Linked DNA regions of Homo sapiens. The protein of the gene in region 5 purifies or fractionates together with the protein of the main gene of each other region. This does not show direct contact. Each region holds a gene or a part of one and is shown on either strand. Other genes may lie near its edges. The genes, in order: EIF4E, GSKIP, AHI1, ARL1, SMYD2, RPP30 and AKAP11.

Region 1 (3,500 bases), on a different chromosome or scaffold from region 5:
CTGTCTCTACTAAAAACACAAAAATTAGTTGGCAGTGGTGGCGCACACCTGTAGTCCCAGCTACTCAGGAGGCTGAGGCAGGAGTCACCTGAACCCGGGAGGTGGATGTTGCAGTGACCCGAGATCGTGCCACTGCACTCCAGCCTGACAACAGAGTGAGACACCATCTCAAAACAAAAACAGAAACAAAAAGACTAGCAAAAAAAAAAAAAACAAAAAAAAACATTAACCCACAGAAAAATTCTAATTCTATACAAGAGTAAATAACTATCTTTCAAAGTTTAAAATACAGAGCGACAAGCTTTTCTAGGATAGAATCATGTATCTAACCAAACTGGACATATCCAGTTATACCTTATAAAGTTGAACTAAATACAATATGTATACATACATTTGCACACACCAGAATTTCTAGATTCTTTTTCTTTTTTTTTTTTTTTTTTGAGATGGAGTCTTGCTCTATCACCCAGGCTGGCGTGCAGTGGTGCAGTCTTGGCTCACTGCAACCTCCGCCTCCCAGGTTCAAGTGATTCTCCTGTCTCAGCCTCCCGAGTAGCTGGGACTACAGGCACGTGCCACCACACCCAGCTAATTTTTGTATTTTTAGTAGAGATGGGGTTTCACCATGTTGGCCAGGCTGGTCTCCAACTCCTGACCTCAAGTGCTCCACCTGCCACAGCCTCCCCAAGTGCTGGGATTACAGGCGTGAGCCACCATGCCCGGCCAGAATTTCTAGCTTCTGAGGCCATACTGCACAATTAGGTAGCCATTACCTACATGTGGTTAATTATTAATATTAAATAAAGTTTAAAATTTATTTCCTTGGTTGCACAAGCCACAATATCCAAATGCTCAATTACCATGTACAGCCAGTGGCTACTGTATTGGACAGTAAAAAATACCCTTTCCATTATCTCAGAAAGTTCTCCTGGACAGACTTTTTCTAGTAGAATCCTCAAAAAATTGTAATTGGGCAATTTGGAAAGGGGAATGAGGTGGTTGGGGAAGATAGGCAGGAGATAGGTTTTCCACATTAGACAGAACTTAGCCTGTGCCAGATAATGTCCTTAATATGACTCATGCTAATTCAATCCTTGTTGTACTTCAGTATAAATTGGTTTCCTTTGTAAACCTATGCATTTTATGTAATACATGTTAAAACATTCTTTTTTCTTTTTTTTTTTTGAGACGGAGTTTCACTCTTGTTGCCCAGGCTGGATGCAATGGCACCATCTCGGCTCACTGCAACCTCCACCTCCCAGGTTCAAGCAATTCTCTTGCCTCAGCCTTAGCTGGGACTACAGGCACCCATGAACACGCTCGGCTAATTTTTGTATTTTTAGTAAAGATAAGGTTTCACCATTTTGGCCAGGCTGGTCTCGAACTCCTGATCTCAGGTGATTCGCCCATCTCAGCCTCCCAAAGTGCTGGGATTACAAGCATGAACCACTGTGCCTGGCCTGCATTTTAAAACACTCTAAGATAGGGGCTATAGGCTTTACCAAATTGCTATTTTGGACCATGAGTATGTAACTAAGTCAAAGAAAAAAAACAAAAAATAAAGAAAAGCTAAATACCATGATGTATAAACCAACATCCAAAACAGATTTTACAATCCACAACATGGTAACAAAGTATACAAGTTCAAATGAAAAAAATTTAACCCTCCTAATCCCACCATCCATAAACCATCTGGCATATTCTTTCAGTTAGAATTTTACACTTATTTGTGTACCTACGCATCAGTATCAACCCTAACATACAAGTTTTACTGAAGGATGGACTTTAGTTTTGGTTGAATTTGTTCCTCTTTTTACACAAGATAGTAATAAAGCTTGACACTCAGGTTTGAGTTCTCTCTCACTTATGTTAATTATGAGTTCTATAAAAATAACTTGCCTTGCTAAAAATTAAAAAAAAATTTTATATTCAAGTGCTATTCCTTTTGCGGCACCAAAACTTTGTATGTAACACTTAAGGAACTATGTGACCGTGGTAGAAAGTTAAAAATCACTTGAAATATGAATTCCTCACCTATAAAGTATTCATTTATTCATCAGAAAAAGAACTATAAGAAAAAATATACATTTCACATATCAATTAAAATATCAAACTTTCTTGCCTTAGTTAATACTTCTGACCAGATTTTGTGCCAACATAGGCTTACTGCCCCATAAGAAGTTTCACGGCAATACTAATATGTTGACATATATATGTAGACATATATATCAAAATTAGTTACAATATTTTTTTCTGTGCTCTGCTCATTACAATGACAGTAATGGAGTGCAATGTCATCATCTCGGCTCACTGCAACCTCCACCTCCCAGGTTGAAGCAATTCTCTTGCTTCAGTCTCCCAAGTAGCTAGGACTACAGGCACCCGTGACCACGCTTGGCTAATTTTTGTATTTTTAGTAGAGATTACAATGACAGTAATGAGCAGAGCACAGAAAAAAATATTACAACTAATTTCTGTATAGCATTTTGTAGTAACAAGCTTAAAATACACCAAGAAACACGTATGTGTACATTTTAGCTTAAACTTTTTCAAAACAACTGTTTTACCCTTTGCCAGACTTATCACCAAAATTACTAAAAGTACTAAGGTAGTTAAGTCTAGAATAAATCCAAAATTCACAAACTTTTAAAAATGTACTAAAACTTTTTTCACTAGCAAAATATTTTAACTGGGAAATCATACGAACTAGCAAATGCCAGAAATCAAATTAGAAAGGGGGAGAAGGTTAAGTGTCCATCCACTTTCTTTAGAAATCCACAAAGTTCTCAATTAGTTACTAAAACACGATTGGTGTAATTGCTTGGTTTAGTCCTCAAGATTATATATTTTTGTTATCTAACATTGTAATATAACAGGGCCTAAAAATAAATGCCCACACGTTTTATTTTATAGCTGTAGCAAAACACATAGTAAGCTTATCAAAACACATCTCCCCTTCTGAAGTCACCCAAGCAAAGCACATTACATGCCTACTTGAAAGAGTGCAACGGTTAAGAATATACACTCTGCACTTTGGCTGCTTTAATTTAAACTCCACCCCACCACTTAATAGCTGTGTGATTTTGGAGCAAGTTAGTCACACAATGTTACTTCATCTGTACTGTTAAGAATTAAATGAGTTAGCCTGGCGCGGTGGCTCACGCCTGTAATCCCAGCACTTTGGGAGGCTGAGGTGGGCGGATCACGAGGTCAGGAGTTCGAGACCAGCCTGGCCAATATGGTGAAACCCCATCTCTACTATAAATACAAAAATTAGCCGGGCGTGGTGGCACGTGCCTGTAGTCCCAGCTACTCAGGAGGCTGAAGCAGGAGAATCACTTGAACCCAGGAGGCGGAGGTTGCAGTGAGCCGAGATCGCGCCACTGTACTCTAGCTGGGACAACAGTGAGACGCTGTCTCAAAAAAAAAAAAAAAAGAAATAAATGAGTTAATATATGTAAAGCATTCAGTGTGGTACTTAACATAGAATAAGTGCTATG
Region 2 (3,500 bases), on a different chromosome or scaffold from region 5:
CTGCTTCTTAATCTATAACTTGGAGATTTAAAAAAAACTTAAAACGATTTGGGGAATGATTATATGACTGTATGATACAGAAAGATCTGAACCATATGTAAAACCTGACATGTAGTAGGTGCTCAAATATTTGTTTGTTTTTCAGTCTGATTCAGTTAACATTTATTGAGCAACTATCCTGTGTCAGCAATTGAAAATCAAACCATGCATAAGACATGATCCCTGTCCACCAGGAAGATCACAGTCTAGCAGAGATAAGAGGAAGAAGGCAAACTGAACTGTACTCCACTGTAGAGAGTGCAGTAATAGAGCATGGATCTGAAGAGGTGTGATTCATTTTCCTTAGGTGTCTGCCTCTGCTTTTCATTTAAAAAAAAAAAAACTCAGCTTCTATTTCTAACACAAACTTTCACCTCCTATGGCTTAAATAGATGTCATAAAAATTTAGGATTTATATAGGGAATGTACACACTTAAGTCAGCAAAAACTAAATTAATTTTGCCCTATATTGTGCTGGTGAACCATGATATACCTTATAATCTTGTCAAAAAGAAAAGTTGTAGCTGTGTTCACAGGAAAAAAAAAAAAAGAAAAACACATGGCCTGTCAGCCTTTTGCCTAAGATCAATTGGAGTATCTTTTCTTATCAGTTTAATATCTGTTATGTCCTCTATCTAAGGACAATATATTAAATGGATTTTTGGAGCAGGGAGATAGAATAGGCTCTTGCTCCATTAACTTCACACATCGACCTGGTATTGCAAATACCTCCAGAAATAGTGTACCCCTACCAAGAAAAAAAAAACACATTAACATGTTCTTTTATCTCACAGAATTGAGCATTTATTCCCTGTCAGGTAAGAAATATATTAGGTGAAAGTGGCCTTTCAGATTACTAATAATAAAGCTAAACAGTTATTAAAACTAATAAACTATTAAACCAATTATTAATAAACAATTATTAAAATTAACAACTAATTATTAAAACTAAATTATTAGGAATAATTTTTAGAATTGTTTATAAAAGAAGTGAAAAATAATGAAAAAAATATGAACTAATGATATATTACCTATTATAGTACTTAATATAGTGGACCCTCAATATATGTGGAATTAAATGGGGTAAATAATAGATGCATGTTTTAGAATATGAAAATGAAATACCATTTTTGTGTAGCTTTTCAAATTCTTTCTCTGCATTTCCTTGAGCTTCTAAGTAAAACCTTTTAAATGTTGAAAATTCTATAGGGAGCATTTTAGTGGTGTTTCTGTGTTATACATTATAAGTTGCTGAAGTATTAAAGGTTGTATTTAAAATGTGTATACTCTGACTTTGAGAAATAGTTTCACTCAGTTACCCATGTATCTGGTGGTCTAGTGGCTAGGAAAAGAAATAATTTATTTTTTTGAAAGGATGATTACTCACATAAACACTTGGATTTTGCTTTCTGTACCAACATGAAAACTAATGAATTCACTGTTGCATTTCTCTTGTAGGTGGTAGGCTATGCTTTTGACCAGGTAGATGATCATTTACAGACTCCCTACCATGAAACAGTCTACTCCTTGTTGGATACACTCAGCCCCGCCTACCGAGAAGCATTTGGAAACGCACTGCTTCAAAGACTGGAAGCTTTGAAAAGAGATGGACAGTCATGACTACACTTTTTCCTTTCAGAGGGGCTGGTGCTGGTACAGAATGTTGATATAAAGCTTAAAATTCTTGCATATGGTCATAGAAAATGCATCTTTGGTTTTGTGTTTTTATCACTTGCTTCCAACTTAGGCTTTTGGCTCAGAAGATTATTGAATAATGATTTGTCTTAGTTTCTGTTTCAGTAAGGGAATTCTGAGGCCGTTGCTATGATACCATCATTAAGACATTCACATGTCTTCATATAATATCTCTTCATTTCAAATCCTAATCACTATTTCATACTATTACAGGGCTTTGATGCTGCCAGCACTGTCTTTTACATAGGAAATTCTAGATTTGCACAGTAATAGAGGAATTAGAAGTACCTAACTATACACTTTGATTCAGCCTGCTAAATCAGGGGTTCAATACTAGCTTGGACAAACTTTGTAGTAATTAATTGCTACCAGCCTTATTGGAAACAAATTATCAACTAGTTTCCCCTGCACAAATTTTGAAATTCACTGCTTCACTTAATCTATTTATATTACTAATAATGGATTAATAAAGATGAATTAATTATATATTACTTAACTAGTATTAAATGAAAAACAGGGACTGAAATAGTTCTGTATTCCGTGTTTGCAACAGCCAGCCAACTAAGCAGAGGATAAACCGTTAGCAAATGAATGTAATAATTACTCATTTCCAAGATATCTAAGCACATAAGCAAATACAGGAACAGACTTCATTCTTTTTCTTAACAAAAAAGCATCTTCAGTGTGTGATTTAAAAGAAAGAAGATTCTGGTTTCCTAGAAAACAATATTTTGGCCTGTGTTGATTCTTATTCTGAATGTGTGTTTACATAATGTACAGTATATATTCAGAAAGTATTTTTGCTTCAACGTTTACTTTCTATGATGTAGTGCTTTGGTATTCCTACAGCACCCCACCTTCCCCAACAGATGTACAGTGTTCTGTCTCCATTCGAAATCTACAATGTAATATGAGTGCATTGTATGGGTTTGAAACCAAAGGATGAATGAAGCATTCAGAGACTTAATATTTGAAAAAGGAATAGTCAGTATTTTATATTTTATTACAGGTACTGATATTTATAAATTTAATAAACTGTACCATGCTGCTGCATGTTTTCAAGTACATGTTGAACAGTAAGGATTGGGGAGTTGTTTTTTAATGGTCACCTAAAGCAGCTGCTATAGAAATGTTGAACTAAAATTTTGCATCTGGTCATACCTTCATGCATTTATCATTTGCAGATATTTTTCCATCATTATTAAAAAACAGGAACTTTTAGGCTCTGAAGATCATGTGGACCAGAGCAAATTAAAGTTCAGTTTGTGTCACAATTCATTGCCAGACTTCATTGGAATGCTTTGTTTGATGATGTATGTTCATTCTCAGCTTTATTTTCAGATGCTTAACTGGGCAACGAAGTCTAACTTCAGGTTGAACTTTCTCATGTTTAATCTCAGGCTAAATGTAAATGATATTTGTAAAGTTTGAATAAAATTCTGTTTACTCATTTTGAGTTAGTATGAAAAAAAGTGATTGTATGTTTAAGAATTGAAATTGTTCATTTTGTGATAAATGATTAATTCCAAGAGCTTGTTTCCATTTTTTAATTCTGCATTGTTACATTTGGATTTGAAATGACTGAAGTGAGCTTTCTCTTGTTACTACTATGAAAGAGCAATGAGGAACAAGAGGAGAGGACATTAATAAAACTACACAGATATACATGAGAATCTAGATATTAAAACCTCCATTTTACCTGGTCTGTTTAAAGAACTTAACCAGCAGATAGGCCAGGTGTCGTGGCTCACACTTGCAATTCCAGT
Region 3 (3,500 bases), on a different chromosome or scaffold from region 5:
AAAAAAAAAAAAAAAAAAGATTGATAATAAAGAGATTAAATCTTGATTTGTATCAAGGCAAGCAAAATGATAAGGCATAAGGACTGAAAAAGAAGCGATAAAACTATCGTTATTAACGTATTACATGATTGCATATGTAGAAAAATCCAAACAATGTAAGAATAAACTCTGTGGGCCGCGATAGCTCACATCTGTAATCCCAGCACTCTGGGAGACTGAGGTGGGAGAACTGCTTGAGCCCAGGAGTTTGAGACTAGCCTGGAAAATGTAGTGAGACCTTGTCTCTACAAAAATTAGCCAAGAATGGTGGTGCATGCCTGTAGTCCCAGCTACTTGGAAGACTGAGGTGGGAAGATCGCTTGAACCTGGGAAGTATAAGTTGCAGTGAGCTGAGATCACGCCACTGCACTCCAGCCTGAGTGACAGGGCAAGACCCTGTCTCAAAAATAAATAAATAAATAAACTCTTGCAATAAGTGAATTTAGCAAATCAATGGACACAATGTTAAAAAATTTTAAATACATTTCTACATATATGTACCAGCAACAAATACAAAACAAAAATTTTTTAAATGCCATTTATAATATCATTAAGAAACATCAAATCCCAGGAATAAATCTAAGGAGAGATTCTGCTGAAATGTATATTGCTGGGATATATTAAATAAGATGCAAATAAATGGAAGTGCATACCAAATTCATAGCCTGAGAATCAATACTGTGTAAAAATGTCAAGTCTCTTTAGAGAGTTGTTATGCTGTGACTCTTTAGATTCACCCAGTCTAGATCAAAATCACAGCTTGCAAGACAGAATGAGGGTAAAAAGGAAGAGGGAGAATGGAGAAGCTCTTCTAAAATCCATACAGAAATGCAAAGTAAAGAATAGCCTAGACAATGCAGATGAAGAAGGAAAAACCTAGAGTATAATACTAAATAGCAAGACCTATTAAAAAGCTACAGTATTTAGACATGGTAGTGTTGGTACAAACTGTCTAATTTAAAAGAATAGAGACTACAAAAACTGATCCACATGTAACACAGTCATGTTATTTATGGGAAAAGTGACACTGCAACACAGAGGGAAAAAGACACTCTCTTCAGTAAATGGTACTGGGTCAATCATAATATATATTCACATGGATATCTTGATCACTGCTTCCTATCATAAACATAAACCAATTCCTGATGAACTGCATATCTAAATGTGAAAGTAAAACAGAAACAGTAAAACTTTTAGAATAAAACTTTTAGAAAAATATCTTCAGAACTTAGGAAAGATTTCTTAAATCACAGCACTTACCATCAAAGGAAAAAAATGGATAAACTGGACAATACAAAAATTTCTGTTTTTCAAAAGACACCAATGAGAGAGAAATAATCAAACCAGAGTAGGACGACATTTGCGATATAAATGTGGGTAGGTATTTATATCTGAGAATAATCTCATATTGAGGTATATAAACCTATCACTACAAATCAATTAGAAAAAGACAATTCTGTGTTTTAAAAAATGCAGACAACTTGAATATATTTACAAATGTCAAAATCTAAGTAGTTAATAAACATGAAAACACTCAACTTCAATAGTTACCATGGAAATAAAATTAAAACCAAAATGAATATCACTATACATTCCTGAAGAATGAGGAAAATTTAGTCACTCCTAAGAATGACTAAAACGTTAAAAAACAGTATTACATGTTGGTAAAGATGTGGAGTGACTGGAACTCTCAAACACTGCTAGTGTCAACTGGTAAACCAACTTTGGAAAACTGGAAGTAATTATTAAAGCAAAAAATATACATAATCTATGACAGCAATTCTACTCCTAACAATATGCCCAAGATAAAGGTATGCATGTGCTTACCAAATACGTGACTGCAATGTGAATTACCGCTTTACTTATAATTGCCTAAAACTAGAAACAACTCAAATGACCATCAATAAAATAGGCAAATTAACTGTGGTATATTCACACAATGGATATCTAAATAATACAAAAACAGAATTAAGAATGAATAAGCTCAACTGTATGCAAGCAACAGTAGTATAAATCTTACAAAATTAACATTGAGTAAAAAAAGTCAGGCACAAGGAGCACAGTATTTATCATTCTATTCATATTAAAGTATAAAAATAAGCAAAAATAAACTCTGTTAGATGTCCAGGTAGTGGTTACTCCCACAGGGCAACTAACGGGAAGGTGATTTTTCTGGGTGCTAATGATGTTCTGTTTCCAAATTTAGGTAATGATTTTATAGGTATGTTCAGTTTGTGAAAAAAACTTTAAAAATATGTATATGAGTATACTGCTTAGTGCTTTATATATATAGAAACACATAAAACAAGTATACTGCTTAGTGCTTTTCTATATATATCTATATACACATTATGCTTCAACAAAAGATTTTAAAATTTTAATTATAGAAACCACAAAACATCATCACTTACATCTTCTAATGAATAAGTACTATAAAATCTAAAATTGCCCATTTTAATCCCAATTTTTGGCCAATCAAATGGAAACTGAAAGACTAAAAAAGGATGTATGAGTAGAAAAGAACATGTAAAGAAAAATAAGAGAAAACAAACAAGAAAAGAAGAAGACAGAAATCAACAAGGCAAAGAGAAAAGTTGAGAAAGGAAAGAAGTGGTATTAGGCTGACGAATTGGGAGGATACCATGTTGGACAGGATGCAGCCTTAACATCAGAAATGTTTATTGGCTGCTGACCATTTATAGCTTTCAACAACTGAGTCCTAACCATTTAGAGGATGTAAACTCAATGGTTTAAAGAAGAAATCCTCTATGACCCAATAGCAACTACAAAGTCAGTATCATTTTAGAGTTGAATTTAAAGTATGACAAGAATCAGAGAAGGTCAGGCATGGTGGCTCATGCCTGTAACCCCAGCATTTTGGGAGGCTGAGGCAGGTGGATCACTTGAGGTCATGAGTTCGAGACCAGCTTGGCCAACATGGTGAAACCCCGTCTCTACTAACAATACAAAAATTAGCCGGGTATGGTGGCATGCATCTGCAATCCCAGCTACTCAGGAGGCCGAGGCAGGAGAATCGCTTTAACCCGGGAGGTGGAGGTTGCAATGAGCCGAGATCGTGCCACTGCATTCCAGCCTGGGAGACAGAGTAAGACACCATCTCAAAAATAAAAAAAATCAGAGAAGACTCAAGTGATACAAACTCATCAGAGACCTACAGCTACAAATACATGTGTGCTTTAATCTAGATGAATTCAAGAACAAGTACCAAATATCCTATATTGAATTATTTTCAAGTATACCCATCAGTTTTAAAGGGCTAAAATTCCTAGAATCAAGTTATTTCTACCAACATACACAATTTTTCATTTAATTTGTATAGCAAACCTGCTTTAGTCTTCTTTTTTGTTTTTTTTGGTTTAGGTTTTGTATCATCTTGCATGCTGTCTTCTGTGCTTTGTTCCATTGAGCTTATTTCATCATCTTGATGAGAATCTGAAGAA
Region 4 (3,500 bases), on a different chromosome or scaffold from region 5:
CTGTTGTTATTTATACTTTTTTCATTTGTTGCCTTGAATTTACTTAGAGAAGAGTAGTACATTTAAATTAAAGAGTTCATACAGTTTGCTCAAGATTTTTTAAATTATGCCTCTAATGTTAGTCTGTCACTCAGGGTATTTCTATATTGTTACTGTTTAAATTTATGGACTAAAACGAAAGAGGCTAGCCTCTAAGAAAGAAGAGCGTTTTGAACCCTGTAATGTCTGTTATTCCTTTTTGCTACCTTCAGTAAATTTTAGTGCCCTTAGTTTTTGCTTCTCAAAATCACCCATCTCTGTCTGGGCATCTCCTGCAGTGCACAGAGCAGCACAGTGGATAGTTTGGAGTTTCAGTGAGTGCTGCTTTACACCACACTCTTTGTTGAGACAGTGTCTTGCTTTTTTGCCCAGGCTGGAGTGCAGTGGCACATTCATAGCTCACTGCAGCGTCTACCTCTACCTCTACCTCCTGGGCTCAAGCGATCTTCCCACCTCAGCCTCCCAAAGTGTTGGGATTACAGGCATGAGCCACTGCACCCAGTCTACACCATTCTCTTGTCTTGCACATATAAACGATGTTTTTTACTGTTGGTGAACATTGTGATTACACTCCTACCTAATTCTAAGGGAGACATCATGAACTTGCATTTTAGTTTTTTGCTCAAATTTGTCATAGTATTGTTATTTTTTAATTGTAATAGACATACTTGCCAAATACTCAAAGGTATCACTTACCACTGCAGACTTAAATATAAAACAAAAGCTAATTGTCCAGTTATACCTGGAAGTTATTTTTTATTTATTTATTTTTTTGAGACAGAGTCTCACTCTATTGCCCAGGCTGAAGTGCAGTGGCAAGATCTCGGCTCACTGCAACCTGTGCCTCCCAGGTTCAAGCGATTCTCATGCATCAGCCTCCAGAGTGGCTGGGATTACAGGCATGTGCCACCACACCCGGCTAATTTTTGTATTTTTAGAAGAGATGGGGTTTCACAGTGTTGGCTAGGCTGGTCTCGAACTCCTGACCTCAGGTGATCCACCCGCCTTGGCCTCCCAAAGTGCTGGGATTACAGGTGTGAGCCACCGCACCCAGCCATGGAAGTTATTTTTTACCTATTTTTCACCTAAGAAGGATGGCAGAGAAAAGGGATGGGACACCTGCCCTTTGACCACCCAGCCATGACCTTATTACAAGTGAGTTCTGGAGGATGTCTGCAGATGGGCTGTGAGATTGAAAGCTGCAGCCATGGCTGTGTCCATGCTGTAGTTTAGAACTGAAGTTTAGCTTTTTTTCTTTTGGTCTGTTTATTTGCTGCCAGCCAAAATTCTGCTTTTTATAGTACATCCACAACTGTACTTTCTAAATACAGCTTTCGAACACTTTTAACTACTCTATTATGAGGGGAGTTTAATATAATAGGATTTCCATTGAGCTAAAAATTATGTTTTCCTTTTTATTTCTTTTTTAAATTCTTTTTTTAATTTATTTGAGCTAAAATTATATACTTTATTTGCAGAACTGCTGGCTTTTAAAAAATATCCTGAAGATGGTATTGATCTTGCTAATTGATGTTTTGTGCACACACCTGCACATGTGTGGGGGAGCAGAGCATACTATTTCGTCTTAAATGGTATAAAATCTCAACCAATAATGTGATTCAACAATTACCATTTCTTTTTAACTCGAATCCTAAGACAAATTATATATATATATATTTTAAACTCTAATAACAGTTACCATTAATTGCTGTAACTCAATTAGATAGGATATTTTGAAGGTGGAATGTATTAGTCTACACATACCACTGATTTGATTTCTCTTCCAGCCATTGGATTTAATGTAGAGACGGTGACGTACAAAAACCTTAAATTCCAAGTCTGGGATTTAGGAGGACAGACAAGTATCAGGTATGGTACAAAGACCAGGTTATTTGGTAGTATTTGACATTTATTGATTCTTTTAAGGGTTAAAATCAGTAAACCCGAATATGTGTTCTATTGTAATTTAAATGGAGCCACCTAGTTTAAAATGAGGTAAAATTGGGAACTATTTCCTTAGAGCATCCATTGAGTTAAAACTTAAGGAAGCCCAGTTTTCCAGATACCTGTTTAATGAAAATCTTTTCACGAAAATCTCAAGACCTTATTACTTCAGCTATTCTCAATTAGAAAGGACCCTCCATTTAGTTCTTGTCAGTCTCTCCTCTCTGAAACACATTGTTTTGGAATTCATTAAAGTACCTTGCAGGCATACCATTTAGGGCTAATATAAAAATAAATGCCATTGGCCGGGCATGGTAGCTCACGCCTGTAATCCCAGCACTTTGGGAGGCCGAGGTGGGCGGATCATCAGGTCAGGAGTTGGAGACCAGCCTGACCAACATGGTGAAACCTCGTCTCTACTAAAAATACAAAAATTAGCTGGGCATGGTGGTGCGTGCCTATAATTCCAGCTACCTGGGAGGCTGAGGCAGGAGAATTGCTTGTACCAGGACTTGGGAGCTGGAGGTTGCAGTGAGCTGAGATCGCGCAACTGCACTCCAGCCTGGGCTACAGAGCAAGACTCTGTCTCAAAAAAAATAAATGAATAAATAAAAAATAAATGCCTTCTGAAGTTCAGGTCTTCTGCTTAGCATTTTGGGCTTGACATGGCAACAGTGAATGTTTGATGACCGTCAGTAGTTGGTCACGATAGTACCATCTTAAAAGATTAGTAATGCATTCTCCAAACATTCTGACTTCTTTTAACTCATTTCTTGAATCACGTTTCTTTTTTTTTAAATTGTGCAGCCTCCCAAGCCAGAGTAGGCTCAGAGAGACTCCATTGAATCACTTTTGAGTTTATTTATAATTTTAGCCATTTCTACTGCTTGATGTCAGTGATTAATTTCATGACTGTTAAATAAAATCACGTTTAAAAAGTTTATTCCTCTTAAGGGGTGCCTAGTTAAAGATTTGTTTAAGAAGATGTAATGATCAGGTCTGTGTACAACTTTTCTATCAGTATATTTAGTGATTTCATAGATTATAAATAAATTTTGTCAGCCTGAAGTCTGAATGAATTCATTTGGAAACTCCCTGGTCCTGTGAGTCAATGTTTATCAACATTCTTTTTTTTTTTTTTTTTTTTTTTTTTGAGACAGAGTTTCACTCTTGTTGCCCAGGCTGGAGTGCAATGGCACCATCTCAGCTCACTGGAACCTCTGCCTTCCTGGTTGAAGTGATTTTCCTGCCTCAGCCTCCCGAGTAGCTGGGATTACAGGCACCTGCCACCATGTCCAGCTAATTTTGTATTTTTAGTAGAGATGGGGTTTCTCCATGTTGGTCAGGCTGGTCTCGAACTCCCGACCTCAGTTGATCTGCCCTCCTCAGCCTCCTAAAATGCTGGGATTACAGATGTGAGCCACCGTGCCCAGCCAATGTTTATCAACATTCTTTTGACTCCATCACATCTGAGGGATATGGTACATATATCCACCAGAAACAGTGAATCATTAAGG
Region 5 (2,237 bases):
GCGTTGGTTGGTAAGGAAAAACATTTTTTTCCTTCCCAAGCATACCCTGGAGTTTTTCCAAAAAGGAGAGTACTGCACAGAACAATCAACAGAATGAGAGATGGCAAGTCTGCTTTCAGACAGATGGGGACAGAAAAGCCAAGAAAGCAAAGCACGCACTAAGCACCTTTACACACTGAAGGAATACCAGGCACCAGAGAACAGATTCAAAACCTCGCCTGCTGGAGGGCACTTGGGTCACTGGACTGTTCCTCCACCACAGATAGATGATAGTTTTCTTTCCTTCGTGTACCTTTTTCTCTTTCTTCCCATTTTCTTCCTCCACAGGCACAGCCCCACAAGAGCAACTGCAGAATAAAGAGGCTGCCCGACCCCAGTCCCATGGAGAAGACTTGAGCTTGCTGAATTATGGACAGCAGGTGTCACTTTCACTCCAAGACTGGGCTCCCACCACCACTGAGAAATCCTCCCCAGAGACAGAAGAAAATACAAACCTCAAATACTGATATCTCTTTAATACTTTCATCATTCAAGTTTGTTCAGAACATTACAAGAGGCATGAAAGAAAAAATAATTCCATTTTTAAAACTCTGTCTGTCCAAAGTATAACATATGAAACCATGCCATTATCTCTTAGGAAACAAAAGCATTCAAAATTAATTTGGTATTAAAGTTCAAGATTCAGACTAACCTCAAAGTACGGCATGTGCAGTGTTTAAGTGCAAGAAGTATTTTCATTCCAATTATTTTACAGAGATGCTGGAGTGACGTGTGCAATTTGAAATATTCAAATCCTTTAAGGTTTCTGAACTAAGTGTTTAAATGAAAACTGAAATGCTGCATAGTTTCAGTGGCTTTCAATTTCCTGTTTGATCTCAGAAATATATGGATGATCTTTGCCGTGAGCTACTTCCATGATTGCAATGGCCTAGGAAAAAGCAAGACAAACAATGAGAGCCTAGAAGCCAATCTCCTCACACCTCCACCCAGGGTAACTTTAAGTTGGATCTCTCTGCTTTAAGGCACAGGATGCAAACTGGCCATTAGAGCCTATGTTCTCCACCAGGACCTGTTTTTATTTTAATTTATTTATTTATTTTGAGACGGAGTCTCGCTCTGTCGCCCAGGCTGGAGTGCAGTGGTGCGATCTCCGCTCACTGCAAGCTCCGCATCCCGGGTTCACGCCATTCTCCTGCCTCAGCTTCCCGAGTAGCTGGGACCACAGGCGCCCACCACCATGCCTGGCTAATTTTTTGTATTTTTAGTAGACACGGGGTTTCACTGTGTTAGCCAGGATGGTCTCGATCTCCTGACCTCGTGATCCGCCCGCCTTGGCCTCTCAAAGTGCTGGGATTACAGGCATGAGCCACCGTGCCTGGCCTTGGTTTTTTTTTAAAAAAGGAGAAGACCATCTGGTAGCTAACTCATCCAGTGTCTACTGCTAGGTAAAACATTCTGCAAAAATATCCAGCTGGAGAAACGATGTCATGAAACTGATTTCATGACATTCTCTTGCCCCAAGATTCTAGATCTTTCAGTAAAACATGCTTTAAGGACTAATTTTTTTGATTATGTTCAACCCAGAAAATAGGTGATGCTGGTAAAGTCCATAGTGAATTTTATATCAAAGCTATTTTGATTTTTAGTTGACATTACTAACCTGCAAGACGTAGCTAAACTATTTTTCCCTTTCGAAAAGCATACTCTTTCCTTTTAATACATATTCTAAAAACTTAAAAGAAAGGTAGCAGGTTTCATTGAGGGATGCTAGAGAATGTACTTAAGGTTTCTTTATAGTGAGGCAATGTAACATGGTCAAGTTTCCAGTGGTTTAATCATTTCCTAGCTGTGTGGCCTTGGGTAATTTACTTAACCACTCTGTGCCTCATTTTCCTGAACTGTAAAACTGGAATAATACCTACCTCTCAGGGTTGTTAATTCAGATACAGTGTTTCGAACAGCGCCTGGCATACAGGAAGTTTATATCAAATGTCATCTCTAAGAATGTATTTGCTCTTTTGTATTCAGCCAAATTACTCAGAGAAAAAAGTATTCCCCCAGAGAATTTTTAATGGCCTGTGACTATGACAGGCATTCCTATCTATTATATATTCTCCTCCTAGATCTCAAGCCAAGAGGAGGCAGGCCAAGTAACAGTGCAAGCCTTCGGAAATCACCTGTTCCAGGTGCCGACTCTGCCCAGGCATTCATTTCAAGACTCATGTTCCTTGCTCAGA
Region 6 (3,500 bases), on a different chromosome or scaffold from region 5:
TCTTCTACTAGATGAAGACTAAAAATAATCTTGTGCAGCCTTTCTTTCCACTCCATCATCTAGTTTTTATTAAACAACATATGCAAAATGTTCACACCAGATTTTTTTTAAAGCAGACACCATGTTAAACTGCATATCCCTCTCACTTGACAGAATTTTTTACTTTTCAGAATTCTTAAATTGAAAAATGTAGGAATTAAGCGAAAAATGCCCATCAAACGAAAGGAGCTTTCCTGAACTTCCCAATGGAATCAGGGGGTGGGGTGTCCTGGTGTCAACTGTCTTGAGTGCCACTGTCCTCCTCATGTTGCCCCACTGCCCCACTTCCCTCACGGCATATACTTCCTGATGAATGTGGACATCCAGCTGGTGACTAACAACGAGCAGAATTTGGCCAGGTCCCCTATGCTGTACCCTGATATGCTAAGTTCAACATGTACTTATTGACTCAACAAACTGTAAGGAGGACTCATTATACGCAAGATAGTGGAGTACTTAAAAAAGGACCATGACAGCCGGTGTTCTCTAGGAGCTCACACTCTGGTTTAAATAATAATACAAGTTCCTAAGAACCCCAATTAAAAGCTCTCACCAAAGCAGCCACTGGGAATCTTACCACTGTCGTGAGACATGAGGAATTATCTGTTGTGCATTGCTGTCCATTCCATGGACTTGGCCTTAACATCACATGCTAGCTCCTCCCATCAAAGGTCACAGTATCGTATGTGGGCTTATTCAGGCAAAGCCATCTAGAAAATGACCTTCCTAGTTCATTAAGATGAAGAAAAAGGTGAAAAAGTTGCAAGTTCACTAGCAATTTGCTGAGTAGCTATAGTGCCCAACTCTGGGGGTGCTACTTCCACAGAAACTGTATTGGCAGTTTGAGGCTGGTAAAAAGGTTAGGCAAACTTCTAAAGACAGAGATTGCTACCTCTGGAGAGAAACAATATGTGAGGCCAACAAGACTGCCATAACCTTGAGTACTGTATTAATTTGTGGCTTTTATCATAGGTACCTGGGGCACATCAGAGATCTTGACAGACAACCAATCAGAACTTTCCTAACCCTGTGTGACTACAGAACTGAATGACTTCTTGTAGTTTTTCATTTCCCCACATTTGACAAATGAACTGTTGCACAACATAGATTTCCAACTCGAAAATGTGGTGATTCAGTGGTTTTTCACTGTTTACTTATTTATTTATAAGTACTGGCAATAACACAAGGAACCAATGATTTGAGCTCAGCCAATATTGTTATGTTCACTAGTACTGTCAATATTTACCCTAGGCCGGGTGTGGTGGCTCACGCCTGTAATCCCAGCATTTGGCGAGGCTGAGGCGGGCGGATCACAAGGTCAGGAATTTGAGACCAGCCTGGCCAACATGGTAAAACCCCATCTCTACTAAAAAGAAATACAAAAATTAGCCGGACATGGTGGTGTGCACCTGTAATCCCAGCTACTCAGGAGGCTGGGGCAGGAGAATTGCTTGAACCAGGGAGGTGGAGGTGGAAGTGAGCCGAGATCGTGCCACTGTACTCCAGCCTGGGTGACAGCAAGACTCCGTCTCAAAAAAAAAAAAAAAATTTACCCAACAAGAGCTTTTATGTTTTTCCCTTGAAATATATGATGATATATTTTTAGTTTGAGTAGCATATTTTTAGGGGTAGAACATAAGCTAACTTAAACTTTTCCCCATTGGGTGGGTCAGGCATGGTGGCTCATGCCTGTAAGCTGAGCACTTTGGGAGGCTGAGGTGGGAGGATTGCTTGAGCCCAGGAGTTTGAGACCAGCCTGGGAAACATGGTGAGACCTCAACTTTACAAAACATAAAAAAATTAGCCAGGTGTGGTGGCATGCACCTGTAGTCCCAATTGCTCAGGAGGCTGAGGTAGGAGGATCACTTGATCCCAGGAAGTTGAGGCTGCAGTGAGCTATGATCATGCCACTGCACTCTAGCTTGGGCAATAGAGTGACACCCTGTCTCTACTACTACTACTACTACTACTAATAATTTTTGCCACACTGAATTTTCACATACTAATTTTCCATTTTCTCCTCTTACTGTCTCCCTCTAATTCTCAAGCCAATTCCTTAGCACCAAAGAGAATTAAAATTGAGAAAGTTATGATTCTACAGAGGCAAAAGAGCAAGGGAATTATCCTTTGAAAAACTTAAAAAAAATTAATCTTCTGATTCTGACAGGATTGGATATGTAATTTTGACTGTATTTGCTAAACTCTTTTTTTTCTCCTTGGATACCAGTTTTTGAGAACAGGAGACTAGGGTTTTGGAAGCCACTACTCTAAAATAGCATCTGAACTCCTCCTAGGATCTGACTGGCAAAGCAAATAGTTAACAGCTGTGCTGACCTTTTGCTACTAAAATAGTTACTGGTGTGAAATAATATTACCTTATGATGGAAATGGGAGGAAATTAAGACAGAAGAAGGAATGGACAGATAGAAGATGAAGGGTATGGGAAAACAAGAGAAAACTATGTAGAAGGGGAATGAGAAAAATTCTATAGCAGAGGGAGAAACAAAAAAGTTTTCTGAACACATGGCCATCCTATTAGGTTCATATAAAAGTAACTCTGGGCTCTTTGTGAATAAGCATGCTTCAACACAGATTTTAATTTTGCATAGACCACGTCTATGTGATGCCATGCCCTGTTCCCTCTTGACTCTCTTTAGCTTCCTGGTGCCTCAAGGATCCTCTGCTTTTTATTTTTTCCCTTCCTCTTCTTTTTTGACTGCTCTGTTCCCTTAATAATTGATGTTCAGGTTATAAGTACCCATGATTATTAGCTATCCTCTTAAGAAATATCCTTTATAAATTTTGGGTTCTATGGCCTTTTAAAAACATCTTAATAATTAACTGGATATTTTTAATTTTAAGCTTTCTTTCTCCCTTTGTTCAGCTTTCAAAACGAAAATTCTCTTTTCTAAAACTGCCTCCTATTCCCTAGCCTTTGTTTTTCCTTCTAAGAACACTGATTTCTTCTGCTTCTTTTCCAATTTGCTAATGTAAGTTTCTAAGATTCAAATACAGAATGGAAAGTACACTTACCACATTAATAGGAGGTCTTTTGAAGTAAAATGGTAGTTTCTCTGTTACAGTTATGCAGACTAAATCCACATCTAAATGTGTGCAAGCAATCTGTAAAGAAGAAAAAAATAGGTAAGGCCAAAAGGAAAATTGGCACAAGTAAGAATGGGAGATAGGGTCAAACTCGATATAAAGTATGGTTCACTCCATAGGTGTTTTGATGGTTCTGTGTTGAAATACATCTGACCTTTTACAAAGTCAACTGTTTTGCTACTCTTTTAGGTTTGGTTTAAATGGTTTAACTGTAATCCAGCAAAAGCGGAATATGTCCACAGACTTTCTCAAAAGATAGGGCCTGGAGACTCTCTAACTCATATGGTCTTCTACATAAGGATGGGTTGCAGAGCGAGGCTCAGTTTCTGGAAGGTTACTTCAGACTGTCCCAGAAA
Region 7 (3,500 bases), on a different chromosome or scaffold from region 5:
ATTTTCTGAGCCTAAATGCATTTATCCATGTTAAACATAATTATTTTAACCTCAGCTTGATTTGGTCTTTTTAACCTTTGTTCTGTTAATGAGATTCTTTTTTCAGCCTGTGTTGAATCATCCACAAATGAGTATTCCACATCATTAATAAATAATGCTAAGGAGGACAGAACCAAGGACAGAAACCGGTAAGACGACTCCTTTTTCTCATCAAATTAGATAATATTCAGCACAGAGTTGTTCAACTGACTACAAGTCCTCTTAATGCTTAAAGCCTCTACCCACACCTCAATCTCCCATTTTAACGCCAGGATTTCCTAGGCAACACTGTCAACCCCACTGAAATCATAGAAGCCTGTGTTTCTCAAAATGAGAGAAGAAACTAAATGTTAGTATCCTTTTCTAGATAAAGTTATAGAAAAGGGCCAAATCATGATTTGTGACATTGCCCCCACTTGCTTCTACCAGTTTTAAACACTGTCTTTTTGGACCTAGATTTTAAGAAATATTGGTGGTTTATATAGCACCATAATAAACTATGACAAAATATACTTTACAAAAATATTAATATTTCCAGGTTAATCCAAGCATCGAACAAAACTCTTCGAGATGAAGTGTTCTATCAGGTGAAAAGCCATTTCCTTTCCTTATGCTACCTCATTCCCTTTTCCAAGAGTTGCCTTCCCTCCCACACCTAGTTTGCCATTTCCAGGGGCTAAGTTCAACTGATGGTCCACAGGTCCTTTCCACACATGCCTGAAACCAGCAATATGCTAAGAACCCTTTCCTCCCTCAAGACTCTGCTACAAATGGTATCTATTATTTCCAGTTATCACTTAATGTGGATAAAGAGTTTATAGAATTTTATAGGTTAGTCAGAAATGCCTTTAGGTAGAGGTTAAGACTATAAGAAACAACTGTCTCATAATTAATAAAATATTTCAAACACCACTGTTATGAACAAAGTTAACTAAGAAAAGTTATATATGAGGTAAGTGCCTTGTGCTATACAAAATCACATTTTTATAATGGCTTTGACTTACGTATTTTCAATCATTCAAGCATAAGTCTTCCAGGTCATTTTGTTCCTAACAGCAGGACAAGCAGGGACCCTCGCCCCACCAAAAAGATACTATTTTAACTAATGTCAGGAAAAGTACAGGGCTACTTTGATGCCTTTTACAGATACCTGTCCTTTTTCTTGTTCTTTAAAGAAAAAAAAGTACCCTTTTTAAAGTGAAAAAAAAAATTTTTCCTCAGAAGTTCATAAAAAGTTTGGGAGAAGCTTAAAAGGCATAAAATTAAATGTATGCAATATTTTTCAAATCAACTATTGGCACACCCCAATAAAATTAGCTGGGCTACTTACTGTATTAAATAAGTGTTAAAAACAATTAGAAATACATTGTGAATAATAAAATACATTTTGAAAGTAATAGCATATTTTCAAATTTAGAATTTTTAAATAATAATGTAAATTTATAGCTCACTTCTAAGATCTGAGGACCTAAACTACACAATTATATGCAAAAGTGTAGTTACCTTTCACTTAGATGATGAAAACTGCTGCTTTCATCTTGGTGTTCATCTTCAAAACTTAAATTGGACCAGCTACCAGTGCTGTCATCACCAATACTGAGGTTCATCTGCTGGCTACTGACAGACTCGGTTGACTGAAAGTCTTCTATTTCTTTTGAACTAAAAAGAAGAAAAAAAGAAAAAAAATCAAATTGAAAGCATCCCAGATTCTGAACTTACAAGACTATCAATTTGATGACAAAGATGATAAAAACAAGAAATGGTATTCGGAATCAGACCAGTGGCTCATGTAATCCTTTATTTGAGTCTGCCAACAAACAGACTGTAGGATAGCGTATTAATTTCAAAGTTAACTGAGGTACCCACCAACAGCCATAACTTACTTTGTTAATCTACAATGGATCTATCCCTAGGGCATTATTTCTCTAAATTCTACTTAAAGCAGTTCATTTTTCAACTGAGATACCATGGGGCAGTACAAGTTCCTAAGTTATCATCTGCTTTGTAAAACAGTACTTTTATTTATGTTAAAGGAGTCTCTTTCTGGCTTTAAGAACAAAAAAGTCGTTCAAGAAATTCTAGTATTGTCAACCAAGCCTGTATTCAAACTAACCAAATCTCTTCAAGATTTTGAACATAGATCATAACCCCTTTCATTTTTCTCAATAAGAGGCATTTATACTTTTATTCCATCATCACAAGAAAGTCCATTCACTGCTCAACTATTTTAATTGTCCCACTACATTTTATGTTCAACAAAGTAGTTCAAAGTGATGTTTCCATAAAAAGAAAAAATGTCAGTCTTCGGATCAAAACCTTCCAATGGCTTCCCACCAAGCCGAAGAGCCCAAATCCTTAAAACATACTGCCTGTCCCCTCTTATAACATCCATCTGAACTCCTACTGTTCTCCCTGGCCCACTCCTCCTATGTTCTCCCTGGCCCACTCCTCCCACTTCAGCAATACAAGCCTCTCTGTTGTTTCCCAAACATGCACAGTCCCACCCCTAGGCCTGGAAATCTGTTCTCGGTGACTCCCACATGACTTATTCTCATTTCACTTTTGGTTTTTGGCTCAAGTATCACTTTGCCAGTATTGTTTCCCCTGCTACCTATCCAAAACTGTAAACCAGCCCTAATGGCCACCGCCACTGTCACCACCAGCACTCTCTAACTCCCTAACTCCCTACCTTGCTTTATTTTTCCCCCAAAGCACTTATCACTATGTGACATACTATATATTTTACTTACCTATTGTCTTATTCCACTATAACATAAGCTCCAAGAGAATGCAGATTTTTGCCTGTTTTACTTACTTCCGTATCCCTAGTGCTATCCTGAGAATAGCCCCTGAATTGCCCCCCATTTTTTCAGCTATTCTAATTTTGTAAGATACAGAATGATACTGAGCATTCCAAGCATAGGCACATTATAGTTCTGAACCATTGATAGATTACTACTTTGTTTTTTTGAATACTTTTCCTAATATGTGCCACATTCTCATGGTTTTTGGCTGAAATGACCCAAAGGATGAGGTCCAGAGAAGAGTTTATAATGACTGTGAGGTTATTTTGGCTCGGAATGATAGCTTAGAATATAATCGTTTTGTTGGCTAAAAATGCACTATCAGCCAGGCACGGTGGCTCATGCTTGCAATCTCAGCACTTTGGGAGGCTAGGGCAGGAGGATTGCTTGAGCTCAGGAATTCAAGATCAGCCTGAGCAACATAGTGAGATCTCATCTCTACAAACAAACAACAACAAACAAAAATGAATAAAAATGTACTATCACATAATTTCCCAATTGCATTCACATGCCACCTCTCTGTTCATTACAGTTTGTGAAATATTTATGGTCATGTTCATGAATCAAACAAAAAGGGACATCAGGTGAAATAATACCTTAAAGAATAATCCATCTGAATGAATCTCCTTTCAAGTTTGAAAGACAAATTTAACTTTA

Evidence for each region.
Region 1: the proteins of SMYD2 (region 5) and EIF4E purify together in Homo sapiens (co-immunoprecipitation; one large-scale study listed by IntAct). This does not show direct contact.
Region 2: the proteins of SMYD2 (region 5) and GSKIP purify together in Homo sapiens (co-immunoprecipitation; one large-scale study listed by IntAct). This does not show direct contact.
Region 3: the proteins of SMYD2 (region 5) and AHI1 purify together in Homo sapiens (co-immunoprecipitation; one large-scale study listed by IntAct). This does not show direct contact.
Region 4: the proteins of SMYD2 (region 5) and ARL1 purify together in Homo sapiens (affinity purification with mass spectrometry; one large-scale study listed by BioGRID and IntAct). This does not show direct contact.
Region 6: the proteins of SMYD2 (region 5) and RPP30 purify together in Homo sapiens (affinity purification with mass spectrometry; one large-scale study listed by BioGRID and IntAct). This does not show direct contact.
Region 7: the proteins of SMYD2 (region 5) and AKAP11 purify together in Homo sapiens (affinity purification with mass spectrometry; one large-scale study listed by BioGRID and IntAct). This does not show direct contact.

Annotation. Positions count from the first base shown.
Region 1 is NC_000004.12:98,919,134-98,922,633, forward strand, and holds part of EIF4E (eukaryotic translation initiation factor 4E), read right to left. Parts: intron 1-3,500. UniProt on the Homo sapiens protein: Acts in the cytoplasm to initiate and regulate protein synthesis and is required in the nucleus for export of a subset of mRNAs from the nucleus to the cytoplasm which promotes processes such as RNA capping, processing and splicing.
Region 2 is NC_000014.9:96,384,026-96,387,525, forward strand, and holds the end of GSKIP (GSK3B-interacting protein), read left to right. Parts: intron 1-598; exon of another isoform or gene 599-787; intron 788-1,497; coding exon 1,498-1,659; 3' UTR 1,660-3,263; downstream 3,264-3,500. UniProt on the Homo sapiens protein: A-kinase anchoring protein for GSK3B and PKA that regulates or facilitates their kinase activity towards their targets.
Region 3 is NC_000006.12:135,459,741-135,463,240, forward strand, and holds part of AHI1 (jouberin), read right to left. Parts: coding exon 3,385-3,500; intron 1-3,384. UniProt on the Homo sapiens protein: Involved in vesicle trafficking and required for ciliogenesis, formation of primary non-motile cilium, and recruitment of RAB8A to the basal body of primary cilium.
Region 4 is NC_000012.12:101,401,273-101,404,772, reverse strand, and holds part of ARL1 (ADP-ribosylation factor-like protein 1), read left to right. Parts: intron 1-1,826; coding exon 1,827-1,908; intron 1,909-3,500. UniProt on the Homo sapiens protein: GTP-binding protein that recruits several effectors, such as golgins, arfaptins and Arf-GEFs to the trans-Golgi network, and modulates their functions at the Golgi complex.
Region 5 is NC_000001.11:214,335,395-214,337,631, reverse strand, and holds the end of SMYD2 (N-lysine methyltransferase SMYD2), read right to left. Parts: intron 929-2,237; coding exon 848-928; 3' UTR 501-847; downstream 1-500. UniProt on the Homo sapiens protein: Protein-lysine N-methyltransferase that methylates both histones and non-histone proteins, including p53/TP53 and RB1. Specifically trimethylates histone H3 'Lys-4' (H3K4me3) in vivo. The activity requires interaction with HSP90alpha.
Region 6 is NC_000010.11:90,885,474-90,888,973, reverse strand, and holds part of RPP30 (ribonuclease P protein subunit p30), read right to left. Parts: intron 3,163-3,500; coding exon 3,073-3,162; intron 1-3,072. UniProt on the Homo sapiens protein: Component of ribonuclease P, a ribonucleoprotein complex that generates mature tRNA molecules by cleaving their 5'-ends. Also a component of the MRP ribonuclease complex, which cleaves pre-rRNA sequences.
Region 7 is NC_000013.11:42,306,652-42,310,151, reverse strand, and holds part of AKAP11 (A-kinase anchor protein 11), read right to left. Parts: intron 1,699-3,500; coding exon 1,543-1,698; intron 1-1,542. UniProt on the Homo sapiens protein: Binds to type II regulatory subunits of protein kinase A and anchors/targets them.